2 separate regions of the Homo sapiens genome follow, and region 1 is linked to region 2. A link means that fine-mapping ties the variant in region 2 to the expression of a gene that starts in the linked region. Tissue or cell type: testis. Region 2 holds a variant in brackets; the other region holds the start of a gene. All regions are shown on one strand. Distances are between the middles of the regions.

The links. PIP is the estimated chance that this variant, and not a neighbour inherited with it, causes the effect.
Region 1: RHBDD3 starts here. The variant in region 2 is fine-mapped to the expression of RHBDD3 in testis (GTEx, PIP above 0.99).

What each region holds. Positions count from the first base shown.
Region 1 is chr22:29,263,043-29,271,042 of GRCh38, reverse strand. RHBDD3 (rhomboid domain containing 3) reads left to right here and starts at 3,062. Exons shown (of 7, transcript NM_012265.3): 1 at 3,062-3,295; 2 at 3,466-3,617; 3 at 5,375-5,564; 4 at 6,825-7,208. The coding sequence starts at 5,417. EWSR1 (EWS RNA binding protein 1) reads right to left here and starts at 2,775. Exons shown (of 17, transcript NM_005243.4): 1 at 2,694-2,775. The coding sequence starts at 2,706. RefSeq lists enhancers at 1,178-1,227, 2,690-2,749, 2,860-2,919, 2,312-3,183 and a silencer at 2,430-2,519.
Region 2 is chr22:29,349,191-29,357,190 of GRCh38, reverse strand. AP1B1 (adaptor related protein complex 1 subunit beta 1) reads left to right here. Exons shown (of 23, transcript NM_001127.4): 6 at 575-765; 7 at 2,320-2,541; 8 at 5,366-5,486; 9 at 5,925-6,020; 10 at 7,041-7,156; 11 at 7,808-7,973. Among named protein-coding and RNA genes, the nearest start is that of SNORD125, 20 kb to the right of the region's middle. The variant G/A (reference allele first, on the strand shown) is at 4,460.

The sequences.
Region 1 (8,000 bases), 86 kb after region 2:
CTTTGCTGAATCCATCTCTTCACGTTGGCTTATCTGCCTACCTCTCTGTACTTTACTGGACTACTTTCTTTCCTTTGTACACACTCTTAACTCAAAACCCTGAATCACCAAGAGGAACAAATCAACTGCCCAAAGGCTAACCTATAATGAAAAAAATAATCTGTTCATGACAATCTTAAAGGCATTTTCAATAGCACTACAAGTCATACTCTCTCTGACATTAAAACTAAATGCAGATCATTTTTTCCATGTGGCATCTACAAAATAAACACAGCAATGAATCATTTAACATCAAATATTTTAACCCACGTTTTGTTGAGGTCTTTGCTTGAGAAGTGATTGTAAATCACTGTCATGTAAGTTCAACGTTTGCAAGACGACTTTTACGCAAGAGCAGTTATGTAAAACATCAAACTGGCAAAGCTGATATGGAACAACCAATGACCTCTTATCAGTGAGAAACCACAGGATTCGGCCCTATACTAACTGGTGGGCTATAGAAGGTAGCAAATTTGTTTCATGAACTTACATTTATCTTCCTAGAGCACACAAACATCACAGGCCCTCAAGCAAGCTATTAGGTTGATGCAAACGTAATTACTTTTGCACCAACCTAATACAATTACAAACTGGTCAGATTATTCAGCAACCGTGTTCGTTTTTAACCCCCAAAAGTGAGCCACTGACTTCACTAAAAATCACTTCACTGTGATTGAGCGCTGGGGGTTCTAGATTGCTGCGAGTCTGCATTCCAATTCTTTGTTGCACTGGATATATATGCTTTACGTACTTTTCTACATGAGATAACATACGAGGAGAGAAAACTTCTATTATTAACCCAAGGCAACGGTTTAACACTTTAGAGCAGTCACTATGGAAGCTGCTTCACACTACCTGAGTTGAGCTTCACAGTACCTGAGCTGAAGTCAGCATAGGACAAATTTGTGGAATGCTTATGCTGGAAGGTCAGAAGGGCTCAAAAGCTTAAGAGGTCTAGCCTAACTTCTGTATTTTACAGGAAAGGAAACTAAGGACCAGATTACTTATGTGACTCTCTGAAGGCCCCCCCAGCCAGGCCTAATGTGTTTACTTTGTGTCAACAGAAACCACAACTGTAATTCTAATACAGTACAGCACATGGTAGTTACTGGTGAACAAGGTTTGAACAAAGTTGACTGAAAAAAGGCACGTCCAGCCACGCAAAAATGTCAACGCACACGTTTTGCCTTTTCAGGCTTTTGCAGAGCAGAAGAGGGTGGATAGGGCACCTAGGAAACCACTTCCCACCGGGAGGTTAGCTGTGGTATTTCAGTCCTCTCTTCTACCGGCACTCTTTGGTATCCACTCTTTGGTATCCCGGCACGAACAGCCAACACTTACCTGTTTATTGACCACAGATGGGGAGAATTCTTAAACTGTCCTTAAGTTGCTGGATTCTGGACTCCAAAAACTCTGGAGTGCCCAGAACTTTTCCTGTCTTCCTTCTCATCTTCTCCCACTGTCTCTAAGGCCTGGAACCAGGTGGCCTGAGAATACCCCCGGGGCAAAAATGCTCCACCCTGCCAATTTTCGCGGGTTAGTGTACCCACAGATTGCGAACTGCAGGTGATGGCTAGGCGACACTCTTAAACGCTCCTTCCATCAAGGACCACTCTACTCCCATTTTGGAGTTCCCAACCGGGGCTTGCTTGCAAGTGCCTTTAAGATTGCTTCTACTGGCCTTTTTTCCCCTCTCCTCTGTCGACCTACGAAATCAACAGGCCTGCCGGCCTAACGCAGGCGAATAAACGTGCGAGGCCACTGCTGAAACATAATTCAAATGAAGGCTCGGCCTTTTGTTCCTCCTAGGTCAGAGAGACCAGAAATATCTTTCTGGTAGCGTTTCTCGTCTCTCGACCCAGGCTGGCCTTATTATACAACGGATGTCCCTCGGCGTTTGCAGAAAAAGGGCCCTGGGAAGCCACTTAATTGGTTTTGGGGGAGGGGAGGACGTGGATTAATAACGATAAAAATGGAGAAGCCCAAGAAAGCGGCAAACTGGGGGCCCTGGAGGAGGGAAGCACATTCTGTCTAAAGCCCAGGCGAGCAGAAGTTCGGCTTGGGGCTGGAAGCCACAGAGGGGGCAGCTCGGCAGCGCCAGACGCCCCAGCCGACTGGGTCTTAAGGATGACGGGGCTCCCGCTCATAGGCCGGCACCCCTCGGCCCACAAATCCACGGTATCTTTATTTGCTTTTTCCCCTGGTTTCTCAGGAAACCCTGAAAACGGGGAGGGAGGCCTCACAGGGACAGCAGCCTGCGGGCCCCCCGGCGGTTTCATAGTGACCGGCTTGAGGCCTGGCCAAATCCTCCCCTTCACGCAGGGCCTCGAAGGCCGCAGGCCCCGCCCACGTGGCGGGAGGCCCGGAGCTCAGGGCGCGAGGACCGCCACACAATGGAGGCCAAGGCGGGCCCCGCGCGCCCCCGCCGCAGCAAGCCCCCCGCGCGCCACGGGCGCCGGAAGATTCCAGAACCGGCCCGCCCGGTTGGGGGAGGGGAGAGGAATGCGGATCCCCGAGCTCGTCGGGCCGCGGCGGGTGCCTCAACCCCCTCTCGGCAACTCCACTCAGTCTTCCCAGCCAAGCCCAGAGACGAACGACCCCCAGTTTGGGCGTTCCGGCTACCGCCGGCGCGACCGCAGTTCCACCATACTCACCCGTGGACGCCATTTTCTCTCCTTCCTCCTCGTTCTCTCAACGTCCGTCTCCCTCTCGCTTTCCCTCTAGGCGCCGCACTGCGCAGGCGCAAATCTCGCAACCCCGGGCGCGACCATCGGGCCAGGCCACGGGGGTGGGGTCAGGAGGGATGAACCACCGCTTACTCGTTCTTCGCGTCCGCAACTCTTGTCCCAGTCCTCTCTAAAGAGCGCCCGACGTGACACTCGGGCCAAAATAGCATCTAAGGGGCCAGAGCGGGGGTGAGCGGGTCTCAGCGTGAAACCGGAGAGGCTCTCAGCACGAGACTAGGCTGTTTGGAATGGTTCCGTCCGCTGGCTCTAGGGACGGTCGCTGAAGAGTCGGCCCTGCAGGGAGACGGAGATCGGCGGGAGGGCTGGGGGAAGGGACCCGGACTAGAACAACTGCTGACTAATCCGCGGGCCGCGGGGAATGGGTGGCGCGCCAGCCGGTCGGCAGGGGTCACGCGGCCGGGTGTGCGCGGAATGGATTCAGGGTTCTCGGGTCGCGCCCGGGAGCTAGAGTCCTGACTCCCAGCCGGGGTCCCCGACCGGCCTTTCGGGGTTGCCGGGCGCGCTCTGCAGTGAGTACCCGGGACGCGTGGCCCGGGCCAGCGGGGAAGGGTCCCCAAGGCCGGTCGGCTGGGTGGGAGGCCTCGAACGCCGTGCCTGGCCCCGAGACCCTATCCCCGGTAACGGTCGAGGTGGAGCAGGCCCTTTAATCATCCCTCATCCGATATCCTTGTTTCTACAGAAGGGGAAACTGAGGCCCAAGGAAATTGAGTATCTCTGCAAAGTCACCAGCTGAGTTCGAACCAGACAGATCCTGGGACCCCCTACTCTATCCGCCACCGGAAGAATCTCCGTCCTTGTCTTTCCATTCTGCCCTCCCGGCTTCCCAGTAAGGTAGGCAGGGCCTGGTGGTGCACTGCCCCGTTTCATAGATTGAAGAAAGTGAGGTCCAGGGGGCTCAAGTCCCAGTTCCGAGTGTCCACGGGTAAGCCCTTCACCCTTGCTAAGGTGCCCAGAGCTGGGGAATGGTTGTGAGGTGTCGATGCAGGAGGAGGTTTACGGTGGGTGCCTTGGCCCCAAACCCTGCCTCCAGGCAAGGCTGACCCTGCCCACCTTCCTGGACCTCTAGCCCCAGCCCCCTAGGTGGATGCCCGGGTCCGCGAAGGGCAGGGTTCACCTTCAAATCCCTCGGCAGGACCAGGAGCCAAGCTAGTGTCCTTTTTTCAGTGAACATATATAAAGCACTGGCTGTGTGCTGTGAATACCCTGGGGAATGTGGGGTTGGATCAGAGGAGCCATGAGCTCAGACCACCTGCCTAGGGAGACAGACTGGCCAAGCTGTGCTCCTAAGGATAAGATCCATGATGTTAGGGGGCCAGAGGAGGGGAAGGGATATTTGAGCTGGGCTTCCAAGGGTGAAATAGGAGTTTGCCTGCTGGCAAAATGGAGGGAAGGACAATGCAGGCAGAGGAGCTTTCCACATTTTTCCTGCAGGAAACTGGTAGATGTGGAGAAGGCGCTTGGCAGGGGAGCAAATTAGGCAGCCTTCTTGTCTCTCTGGGATCCTGCTTCCTGCCCTGAATCAGCTCAGTGGGAGTCCTGGGACCGAGAGGCCTGACCAGGGGTGAAGACCTACAGGCCCTGGAGGACAGGCTGGATGCAAGAGAACAGCACGGGGGAGAAGGCCTTGCTTTGGTGGGCAGGGAAAGGCCATGTTTGAGGGCCAAAGCTGGGACCAGCTAGGCTGGAGCAGCCACCTCCATATTGAGGCCTTCTCGATGGGCCAGTTGGTGGCTACAGACGCCTGCCATGATTAGTGCGGATTGCTATGGTTTATGGAGGAAGAGTTGTGGGCCAGGGCCTGCCTTAGCCTATTCCTTTTTATTTCATCATACTCTGAGGAAAAGAATTTATGAATTTCCATTTTACAGATGAGAAAGGAGAGGCTCATCTGTAAAATGAGGCTCATCTGTAAAAAGATGAGGTTGGAAACTTGCCTCAGGACACAGAGCAGAAAGAGGTGGAGCGCATACTGTACCCTTCCTGTGGAAAGGGGAGCCAGGGCCAGAGGGGCTGTGCCAGTAAGGAAGCAGGAGGAGGCTTACAGTGGATGGGTTCACCCTCAAAGGGGATGTCTCAGTCGCAGGTCTCTGAGTATGGCTCAAGATGTGGGACTTCTGCCCATCTGCCCTACCCCTTACCCTGTCGGCTTGCCCATTGTCTGGCCCCACCCCAGGGTCAAGGGCAACTGAAACCATCTGGAGCATTAAGGCTGGGAACAGGGGAGGGGAGGAAGGAGGGAGGTAGTAGTCTGAGGGAAGGGGGAGGACAGAAGAGGGCTAGAGATGGCCCTGAATTCGCCCTGGGGGGTGAGGGCCTGAACCCCTCTTTTTGGGAGTTCAGGGCCTATCAGGACTCAGAAGTCTCTATGCCTGTCCCCTGCCAGTCCTTAAACAGAGGTGAGTGGAATGGTAAGATGGCTTATGAGCGCATGGGTTAGGGTCTGAGCTCCACTAAGGCCAAGCTGCTGGGCCTGCGTCTCCAGCCTGTTTCCACCTCTGTAAAATAGGGCTGTTGATAAGGTGCTTGAGAGGGTATTGGTGAGATAAAAGCTCCAGTAATAACTTGTTATTGTTTTCTTTTATCCCCAGCACACAGCCCCAGGACCACCCTTGACCGTCCTCAACCAAGCGATGCATGCCAGGGGCCCCCATGGCCAACTGTCCCCAGCACTGCCTCTGGCCTCCTCAGTCCTGATGCTGCTGATGAGCACCCTGTGGCTGGTGGGGGCCGGCCCCGGCCTGGTCCTGGCCCCGGAGCTGTTGCTGGACCCCTGGCAGGGTGAGGGCCAGCCACGTGGACCTTGGAGGAAGCAGGAGACTTGCTGTAGGGCCTGGGCCCACTTGGCAGGAGCAGCACAAGGCCTCCAGGGGTCAAACAGGGATGGGGCCCAGTGTCCCGGGAAAGCATGGCCTTAGACAGGAGCATGCCCAGCACATCCACAGCCAAGAAGGGAGGCAGAGGACTCCCTAGGGTGGGCTGGAACCTATGGGTAGGAGTGCTTTTCTCATGGTTTCCCTTTCTAGCAGCTTTTCCTTGAAATAAGAACTAAGGCCAGGTGGCTGACGCCTGTAATCCCAGCACTTTGGGAAGCTGAGGCAGGTGGATCACTTGAGGTCAGGAGTTCGAGACCAGCCTGGCCAACATGGTTAAACCCTGTCTCTACTAAAAATACAAAAATTGGCCGGGCGCAGTGGCTCACTCCTGTAATCCCAGCACTTTGGGAGGCCGAGGCGGGCGGATCACGAGGTCAGGAGATTGAGACCATCCTGGCTAACACGGTGAAACCCCGTCTCTACTAAAAATACAAAAAGATTAGCTGGGCGTAGTGGCGGGTGCCTGTAGTCCCAGCTACTCGAGAGGCTGAGGCAGGAGAATGGCGCGAACCTGGGAGGCGGAGCTTGCAGTGAGCCAAGATCGCGCCACTGCACTCCAGCCTGGGTGACAGAGTGAGACTCCATCTCAAAAAACAAAACAAAACAAAACAAAAAAACAGCTAAGACTTTCAACTAAGCATCAGGATGGGAGGAGGAGGTGTTGGGGTTTTGAGGAGTGACCTCAGCTGAGCACCTGTTTCCCAATAATAACTCCTCCAATTTGTATTTGAGGACCCCCAATGATGCTCAGAGAGGTTAAGTGATTTGACCAGGGTCACACAGCTTGAGGGAATGGGGTAGCTCCAGGATTGAAGCAGGCCATTTCATGCTCTCAGCCAGGTATGATTTAGTAAATACAGAAGCAGAGTACCTTCATGGTGTCTGGGACATAGTGAGTGCTCTGTAGCGGGTTGTCAGTGAAAAGACTGAGTGGCACGTCCAGTGTATTCTGTTTAATACCACAGAGGCGTAGCCACAGTGTTTGGAAGTCCTTGGTCCCTTCCACCAATGATTAAGTGCTGGCTGTGGGAAGACTGGCTCCTGGGGAGGGGAGGTGGGCTCAGCAGGTGGCCCTGGTGTAGCGTAACCTTCAACCTGGCACACCTGGGACAGCCTTGGATGTTGGGGCCACTAACCTGGCACATAAGCCCCTTCTCTCTCCCAGTGCACCGGCTGCTGACCCATGCCCTGGGCCACACGGCCCTGCCAGGCCTGCTCCTGAGCCTGCTGCTCCTGCCCACTGTGGGCTGGCAGCAGGAGTGCCACCTGGGCACGCTGAGATTCCTGCATGCCTCAGCCCTGCTCGCCCTGGCTTCTGGGCTGCTGGCAGTGCTGCTGGCAGGCCTTGGGCTGTCCAGTGCAGCCGGCAGCTGTGGATACATGCCTGTCCACCTGGCCATGCTGGCTGGGGAGGGACACCGCCCTAGACGGCCCCGTGGGGCACTGCCACCGTGGCTGTCGCCGTGGCTGCTGCTTGCCCTGACCCCACTGCTCAGCTCTGAGCCACCCTTCCTGCAGCTCCTTTGCGGCCTCCTTGCCGGCCTGGCCTGTATCCTTTGCCTGAGCCCAGGGCCCGTGGGGATGTGTGGGTTCTGTGGGTGGGTGCCTGGGAAGGAAGTGGCACAAAGGGGTGAAGGCCCAAGCAATACCAAGGAGCCGTGCACACACATTCCAGGAGCTTCTCTGAGTCTTCCTCTGGGACATGCTCTGGGCTGGGACCTGGGGTCTTATGGCCTGGTGGAGGTGCCAATTACAATGTAAAGGGCTACGTGGGCTCCCTGTAATATCAATGCCATTCTTCGCAGAAATAGAAACAATAACCCTAAAATTTATATGGAACCACAAAAGGCCCAGAATAGCCAAACCACCCTGAGCAAAAATTAAAAATTAAAAAAATTAAAAGCCTGACCGGGCGCAGTGGCTCACGCCTGTAACCCCAGCACTTTGGGAGGCCAGGCGGGCAGATCACTTGAGGTCTGGAGTTCAAGACCAGCCTGGCCAACATGGTGAAACCCCATCTGTACTAAAAATAAAAAAATTAGGCCAGGCGCGATGGCTCATGCCTGTAATCCCAACACTTTGGGAGGCCAAGGTGGGCGGATCACGAGGTCAGGAGTTCGAGACTAGCCTGGCCAACATGGTAAAACCCCATCTCTACTAAAAATACAAAAATTAGCTGGGCGTGGTGGCGTGCACCTGTAATCCCAGCTACTTAGGAGACTGAGGCAGGAGAATCACTTGAACCTGTGAGGCAGAGGCTGCAATGAGCCGAGAACATGCCACTGCACTCCAGCCTGGGCGACAGGGCAAGACCCCGGTCTCAAACCCCAAAAAACAAAAA
Region 2 (8,000 bases):
TCGGGAGGCTGAGGCATGAGAATCACTTGAACCCAAGAGGTGGAGGTTGCAGTGAGCTGAGATCACACCACTGCACTGCAACCTGGGCGACAGAGCACAACTCCATCTCAAAAAAAAAAAACAAAAAACAAAAAAAAACACCTTCCTAGTGGAAATGGATTGAGGGCCTGGAGCTTCACCTGGCAAGCCCCCATCCACTCCCAGTAGCCTCGAGGAGCTCTGCAGGAATCCCCTAGCTCTGAGAAGCACAGCTGACAAGCATTGAAGTGAGGTGCTGTTGCTGGTAGACAGGCGCTGCTGTGTTAGGAAGCTGAGAATGCTTTCTGTGGCTAAGCCCTTGGAGCTAGGTCTTTCTTGTTTTTCTAAATGGCAGGCACACTTGTTTTGTTCCAGTTTGCAGAGGAGTCAGCAGGGTGAGTGCTTGGAGTGGGTCTCGTTGCAGCTCCAGACCCTGCCCATTGGGTCATATTCCTTTCAGGATATTTGACCTCTGACCAGCCAGCATCATTAATGCACTGCCCCCTGGCCTGTGAGCAGCACCCCCAGCCTCTGCCCCTCCCACCCTCTCAACCAGGTGGTGGCCAATGCAGTGGCAGCGCTCTCAGAAATTGCCGAGTCTCACCCCAGCAGCAACCTGCTCGATCTGAACCCACAGTCCATCAACAAGCTGCTGACAGCCCTCAATGAGTGCACCGAGTGGGGCCAGATCTTCATCCTGGACTGCCTCGCCAACTATATGCCCAAGGACGACCGCGAGGCCCAGAGGTGAGCGGGCTGCCCGTTGCTTGCCAGCCCAGCTTGAGGACCCTGGTCCTCAGGGGCTCCAACCAGGCACTGGGCCTTGGGCCTTAGTGGGCCCCTTTCTAGTGCTTTGCCCCATAACCCACCCTCAGACACACCTAAAGGGAGGCCTGCCTGCTTCCCACCTCTCCAGAGCCAGGTAGACAGGAGAGTTGCCTTGGGCAGCTATGGGCATACGCATGGCCTGGCCTTGGAGCTGGCAGAAGCCCAGGGCACCTCTTTTGAGTTCAATAGGTGGGTAGCGCCAGAGCCACTGCTCATTGAATTCTCACTGGGTGTCTGGGGCTCTGCCGGGTGCTTTCCACACTTTAGAGTCTTTAATGCAACTTTTATCATCATCCCCCACTTTCCAGATGAGGGAGCTCCAGCTTAGAGAGGTGGAGGGAATAGTGCAGGTCCCCTGGCTGGGGCTCACCTGACTCATGGTCTTAACCAACAAGATACCCTCCAAGTCGGAGGAAGTGAGGAGTTGCCATCTATACAGTATGTACTACATGCCAGTACTGTGCTTGTTCTTTTTTTTTTTTTTTTTGGCAGGGTCTCTGTTCTGCAGGCTGGAGCTGCAGCCCCAACCTGCAGGGCTCAATCAATTCTCCCAGGTAGCTGGGACTACAGACATCTGCATGCCAACATGAGCAGCTAATTTTTATATTTTGTATAGAGACAGGTTTTCTCCATGTTGCCCAGACTGGTCTCAAACTCCTGGGATCAAGCAATCCACCCATCTCAGCCTCACCCAGCCTTGTTCTTTACATGCGTTGTGTCAGTTAAGCCCCTAGCAACCCTGTGAAGTAGGCATCATCATCTTGATTCTATAAATGAAGAAACTGAGGCTCAGAGTGATTTGAACCTGCTAGGGGTTATCAAGCAGCAGAACCAAGATTTAGATCTTTCTCCTACAAAAAACATGTTTGTTTGTTTGTTTGTTTATGACAGGGTCTCGCTCTGTTGCCCAGGCCAGAGTGCAGTGTCACAGTCTCAGCTCACTGCAGCCTCAAACTCCTGGGCTCAAAGCAGTCCTCCTGCGTCAGCCTCCCAAGTAGCTGGGACTACAGGCATGCACCACCATACTCAGCTAATGTGTAAAATTATTTTTAGTAGAGAAGGGTCTCATGATTTTGCCCAGGCTGAACATGCTATTTTTTTTTTTTTCGAGACAGGGTCTCACTCTGTTGCCCAGGCTGGAGTGCAATGGCGCGATCTCGGCTCACTGTAACCTCCACCTCCTGGGTTCAAGCGATTCTCATGTCTCAGCCTCCTGAGTACCTGGGACTACAGGTGCTTACCACCATGCCCAGCTAATTTTTATATTTTTTGGTAGAGACAAAGTTTTACCATGTTGGCCAGGCTTGTCTCAAACTCCTGACCTCAAGTGATCCACCCACCTCGGCCTCCCAAAGTGCTGGGATTACAGGCGTGAACTATCACGCCTGGCCTGGACATGCTATTTTGGTAACTAAAAACAGAATGTTTCCCCTTGTCTTTCCTGTTTGCCCCGTTGGAATGGACGGACCCCAGCATCTGTGAGCGGGTCACCCCCAGGCTCTCCCATGCCAACTCCGCTGTGGTGCTCTCTGCTGTGAAGGTGCTGATGAAGTTCATGGAGATGTTGTCTAAGGACTTGGACTACTACGGCACACTGCTCAAGAAGCTGGCCCCACCCCTGGTCACACTGCTGTCAGCCGAGCCAGAGCTGCAGTATGTGGCCCTGCGCAACATCAATCTCATCGTGCAGAAAAGGTACTGAGGTCACCACACGCACGTCCATGCGTACCCCTCGGGGAGCCTCTTCTGCTGGGAATGGGGGCTCTCAAAGGAAACTGACCTGTCACCATGCAGGAAGTCTCAAATAGCTTAACCCAGAATAGCTTAACCAAAGTGGCAGCTTTGCCCCCCTGAGGGATATTTGGTGGTGTCTGGAGATACTTTGGTTTTCACAGCTGAGGGGGGCATGCTACCGGCTTCTAGTGGGCAGAGGCTAGGAGTGCTGGTCAGCATCCTACAGTGCACAGAATAGCCCCTCACAGTAACTGTCCAGCCCGAAATGTCAGCAGTGCTGAGGTTGAGAAGCCCTGGCTTAACCTAACTAGGAAGCAGGCTATGTAAAGACTAGCTTGGTGATTAAACTAGATATTGTCTTCATAGTCCACGAGCTGTCCTGAAATGGGCTGTCAGATTTTGTGTATCTGTGTACATTTCTTCGGGGGACAGAGTCCGTAGCTCTAGTCAAACTCTCTGAGGTTGGAACCTTGAGGTCTGGGGGAGAGGTACATCGGACTCACTCCAAATGCTGTGCCGCCCACTTCCCTCCCATGAGAATGGCTGAGCAGTGAGCTGCTGCTCCCAGGGCACGTGGTATGGTAGTGGGGGGTAGGCGAGAGCAGAAAAACCATTGAGCAGTGCTGGATCGGAGGGGTTCATGGCATGATCCCCTTCTTCCTCTGAAGTGGCTCTGAGTGGCAGAGCCCTGCAGCTCTGGGGAGGGGGATTGACCTTGAGTTCTCCTCACAGCTTTTGGTCAAATGGCTCAGTCAGCAGTGGGGACTTGACAGTAGCAACCATTGATCATTCGTGGGGACTTGACAGTAGCAACCATTGATCATTCGTATGTTACAGCAGGCCCTGTGGCTGGGAGTGGGGCTACACAGAGAACTGGGGCCTCATTAGTCATTTTCTCTTGGAAGACAGCACATCCTCCTGGTTGTAGCTTCAGTCTGGGTCTTAGTACTCTCCCGGGGGACCCAGAGATATTGGTCGAATTGGGTTATTAGGGAGGTAAATATGGGAAAGCCTTCTGAGTTCCTAAACCAAGGGATGAAACTAGGGCTTCCTGGTTGCAGTGTGGGTCTTTATACGCCAGTGCCCTTGGGTCACGGATTTAATGCGGCGTAGTGACTAGTAGAGCAGATCAGCGTGCAGGATTCCCTGTGCTATATTTAACATAGTAAATCTCTTAAGAATTTGTCCACGTCACTGAGACATGCCCTGCCCTGGTCCTGAGATGTGGCTGGGCAGCTTTTGCCAAGTCCTAATCGCAGAAATATCTTCCTGCTACCCAGCTCGGGGTCTTGCCTCTCCCATGGGGCACGACAAAGGCTCCTTGCTTGGCCAGGACCTCCCCGCAGTGTGCACAGCAGCACAGAGTACCCAGTTTTCTCCTTTCTCTCTGTCCTGTCTTCTCCCTTCCTCACCATCTGTCCTCGTATCTTTTCCTTCCTCCTCTCTGTTCTGGAAGGGCATAGGAGTAGGAGTCAGAGGCAGAGGATTCTCGCCCCACTCTCGTCTTTACTGACATTAGCCATGTGACCTAGTACCAGCCTCTCACCCTCTCTGAAGTTTCCTTGTTCAGGAAAAATGTGGTGGGTGATACTCGCGGAAGGCAGAAGGATGTTGCCTTTGAGGGAGGAACAATGACACATGTGAAAGGGCTCAGCTAGTGACAGCTCCTGCCTAGCGGTGCCTTCTCTGAGGCAGGCATCGATCATGCTGGATGCTTCTCGTCTCACTCTCACAGCAGGCCGATTAGGTCGGTGTCCATGTTGGGGTCCCAAGACCACCCTCATGCTCAGGTTTCACTAGCAGTACTCACAGGACTCAGCATATATTTTTTAAATATATATATTTTTTGAGACAGGGTCTCACTCTGTTGCCGAGGCTC[G/A]TCTTGAACTCCTGGACTCAAGCAATCCTCCTGCCCCAGCCTCCCAAAGTGTTGGGATGACAGGCATGAGCTGCTGTGCCCAGCCAGGACTCAGCATATAGCTATACCCACAGCAAAGATCTATCAGCAGCAGAGCAGGGCTGCCCGGCTGGGTCATAGGGGAGAAGGACACAGGTGGAGTCTGGAGGGTTCCATGAGAGGCTTCCTTGTACCTCCTCCTTCCCATGGGGAGTCATACAGAGCACACTCCTCCCCCAACAAAATGCAGCAACATGTATGTAATGTTTCTGCCCAGGAAAGCCTATTTGAGACTTCGGCACCCAAGTTTGTTATTGGGGGCACCTACACAAATTCCATATTCCCAGTAGGGAAGCATGTGTTCAGCATAAACTGTATTCTTTGTACAAATGGTCTAGGTACAGTTAAATACCTTTATCATTTAGGGAACAGTGAGAACACTTCAAAATCCAAGTTGCCACGTGCCAGGCCTTCTGAGGCTAGCAGTCCCAGACCTGCAGTAGTAACATGTTTCTGTACAGCGTCATTCCCATTTCATGGGTGAGGAAACAGGCCTGAGGTCACAGGCTGGGACTGGGACTGAGATATGTCTGATTCCCAAGCCCGTCCCATGGGGCCTGCTGCCTCTGGAGAGTGAGTGAGCCGTCTCTCACTGCCCTCCGTCTCCCTTCCGGCGACGTGCTCAGGCACACAGGAGCAGTCACAGCCTTGCTCAGGCCGGTTGCTGGGCCCTCTACCCAGGAGCTTGCAGCCATGGCAGTGACTCTGCCTTCACAGACATCAGGCTCCACCTCAGACCCCAGAAATGTCCCAGCAAATGTGGAGGGCATTTTCTCACAGGGCTTAAGCCTTGTTTTTTGCTCTCCGGGCATCCTGCCCCACCACCAGGCCTGAGATCCTGAAGCATGAGATGAAGGTGTTCTTCGTGAAGTACAACGACCCTATCTACGTGAAGCTGGAGAAGCTGGACATCATGATCCGCCTGGCCTCTCAGGCCAACATCGCCCAGGTCAGCTGCGTGTGATGGTCAGGACACGGGCTCAGTGTGGGACCATTCCACCACCACCAGACTGTAGGCTCTGGCCCAGGTGACCAGTCTCACCATTAACGGTTTATCTCATGAAGAGTGTTTAGCATGGGACATGGGGCTTCGTAAGCAAGTAAAAGAACTGATGTTTTTATTACTAAAGAATGTTTCTCCATGTTATCACCTGTCATCCCTTACAACGTGGTGTTGGATATGTTAGCTAAATCAACCCCAAACAAGGTTGTCCAGGCCTTCTTTCCTTTTCAGGCACCTGCCAGCTCTCTCCCTTGGGCCTTCTACCTGGAGCAGGAGGCAGAATCCCATTCTCCTAGGGAGTCTGTGTATATTCACTGCCCAGGAGTGTTCCAGCAGATTGCCCCATCAGGTGCCCCAGCCCCATCTTTTCTGTTTGGGCCACAGGTGTTGGCAGAGCTGAAAGAGTACGCAACAGAAGTGGATGTGGACTTTGTACGGAAGGCTGTGCGTGCTATTGGCCGCTGCGCCATCAAGGTGGAGGTGAGGCTCTGGGACTCTGTCCTTGGCTGGAGAAGGAAAAGGGGGCTGAAACCGGGAAACCAGTCTGATTCAAGCAGAATCTGCCAGCTTGCTTGTGGTCTGGGAAGGCCTGAGGCTCATCACTGGAGCCCCCATGGCAAGCATTGTGCAGATCTGGTGGGGTTCCTTCTCACTCTATAGTATCCTTTAGGCCTTCGAGTTGCTGCCGATCAAATTAACCCATCATAATCATGGTTCTCCTGCAGCATTTGTTAAGATGCTGGGGCAGCCACAAGTTAATGGACTTAGCATTCACTTCACAGAGCTCTGGGGTAAGGGCCCTGCCTGTTGAACACTTCTTGGCAAATATTGTCATCATTCAGCTGCCCACGTGCCTCTGTGTCCCAGCGTCCCAGGGCCACTCTAGACTCCTGTGTCCTGGCATTTTATCCCCGTCCTTTCTCTGTCTGTGGAGATGTTCCTCGACCACTAAGCCAGATTCTCCTTAAATGGGTCCACTGGTGGCTACAGTGTCCTAGGATAGGTGGTCGCCCCCGACCTATCCCCTTGAGGCGTGCTCACCCTGGAGCCTATGATGCCGTCCTGAGAAATCTCCTTCAGAGCAGGCCGTGAGAGCAGTGTGTGGAAGTAAAGGCAGAAGCAGTCAGAGGTTCTGTGAGTGTTTTTGGACATAGGAGCCCCCTTTCTGAAACAAGTAAAAAGAGAGGTGGGGTTGGACTGCAGCGTAGTCACCTTGCCCTCAGGTCCTGACTTAGAGGAGCTCCAAGGACCCTCCTGGCTCTCAGGAACTCTTCCTCTGGCTTCTCCTCAGTCTCATTCCCCATGTCCCCACCATCCTAGGGCCATGATTTGGTACTGGTTCTCTCCTGTTACCTGGGGAGAGGGTTCTCCTGTTTTCCCACTGTGATGAGGAAGGTGTGCCAGAAGTGATTTGCAGCCCTTGGCCGAGGCGTGGACATCAGAGGCTCTACTGGAAATGGGGTGCGGGGACCTCGCCCACACTCTTCTCTTCCCATGCAGCAATCTGCGGAGCGCTGTGTGAGCACGCTGCTCGACCTCATCCAGACCAAGGTCAACTATGTGGTCCAGGAGGCCATCGTGGTCATCAAGGACATCTTCCGCAAGTACCCCAACAAGTGCGTGCCCGCCCTCCTAGGGAGAGGGCATCTAGCTCTGCCTGGGGACAGGGATGGCGGGGCAGAAAAGGAAGGAGGAATCTCCTCTTCCTTACTTCTTGGCCACAAGCGTCATTCTCAAAAGAAACCCTTTGTTTTTTATTTCGTCCACACTGCCCCTCCTCTACTCCCCAGGCCAAAATAAGGGCTAACGTGTGACAGATGAAACTCAGATCCCCAGGCCAGGTGTGGTGGCTCTTGCCTGTAATCCCAGCACTTTGGGAGGCCGAGGCGGGTGGATTGCCTGAGATCAGGAGTTCAAGACTAGTCTAGCCAACATAGTGAAACCATGTTTCTACTAAAAATACAAAAAAATTAGCTGGATGTGGTGGCATGTCCCTGTAATCCCAGCTACTTGGGAGGCTGAGGCAGGGGCATTGCTTGAACCAGGGAGGTGGAGGTTGCAGTGAGGTGAGATCACACCACTGCACACCAGCCTGGGCAACAGAGTGAAACTCCATCTCAAAAAAAAAAACAAAACTCAGATCCCCTTTACCTGCCACCTTGGGGTCTTAGGAGGCAGGTCCCCTTCCCTCCTGGCCCCTGTCTGGCTTCCCTGGGTTTCCCGTTCTCCTTGAGGGCTCCCATACCAACTGTGCCCTGGTCTCCCAGGTATGAGAGTGTGATTGCCACACTGTGTGAGAATCTGGACTCCCTGGATGAGCCTGAGGCCCGGGCTGCCATGATCTGGATTGTGGGCGAGTACGCGGAACGGATCGACAACGCAGATGAGCTGCTGGAGAGCTTCCTCGAGGGCTTCCATGACGAGAGCACACAGGTGAGCCAGCGAGCTGGCCAGGGTGTG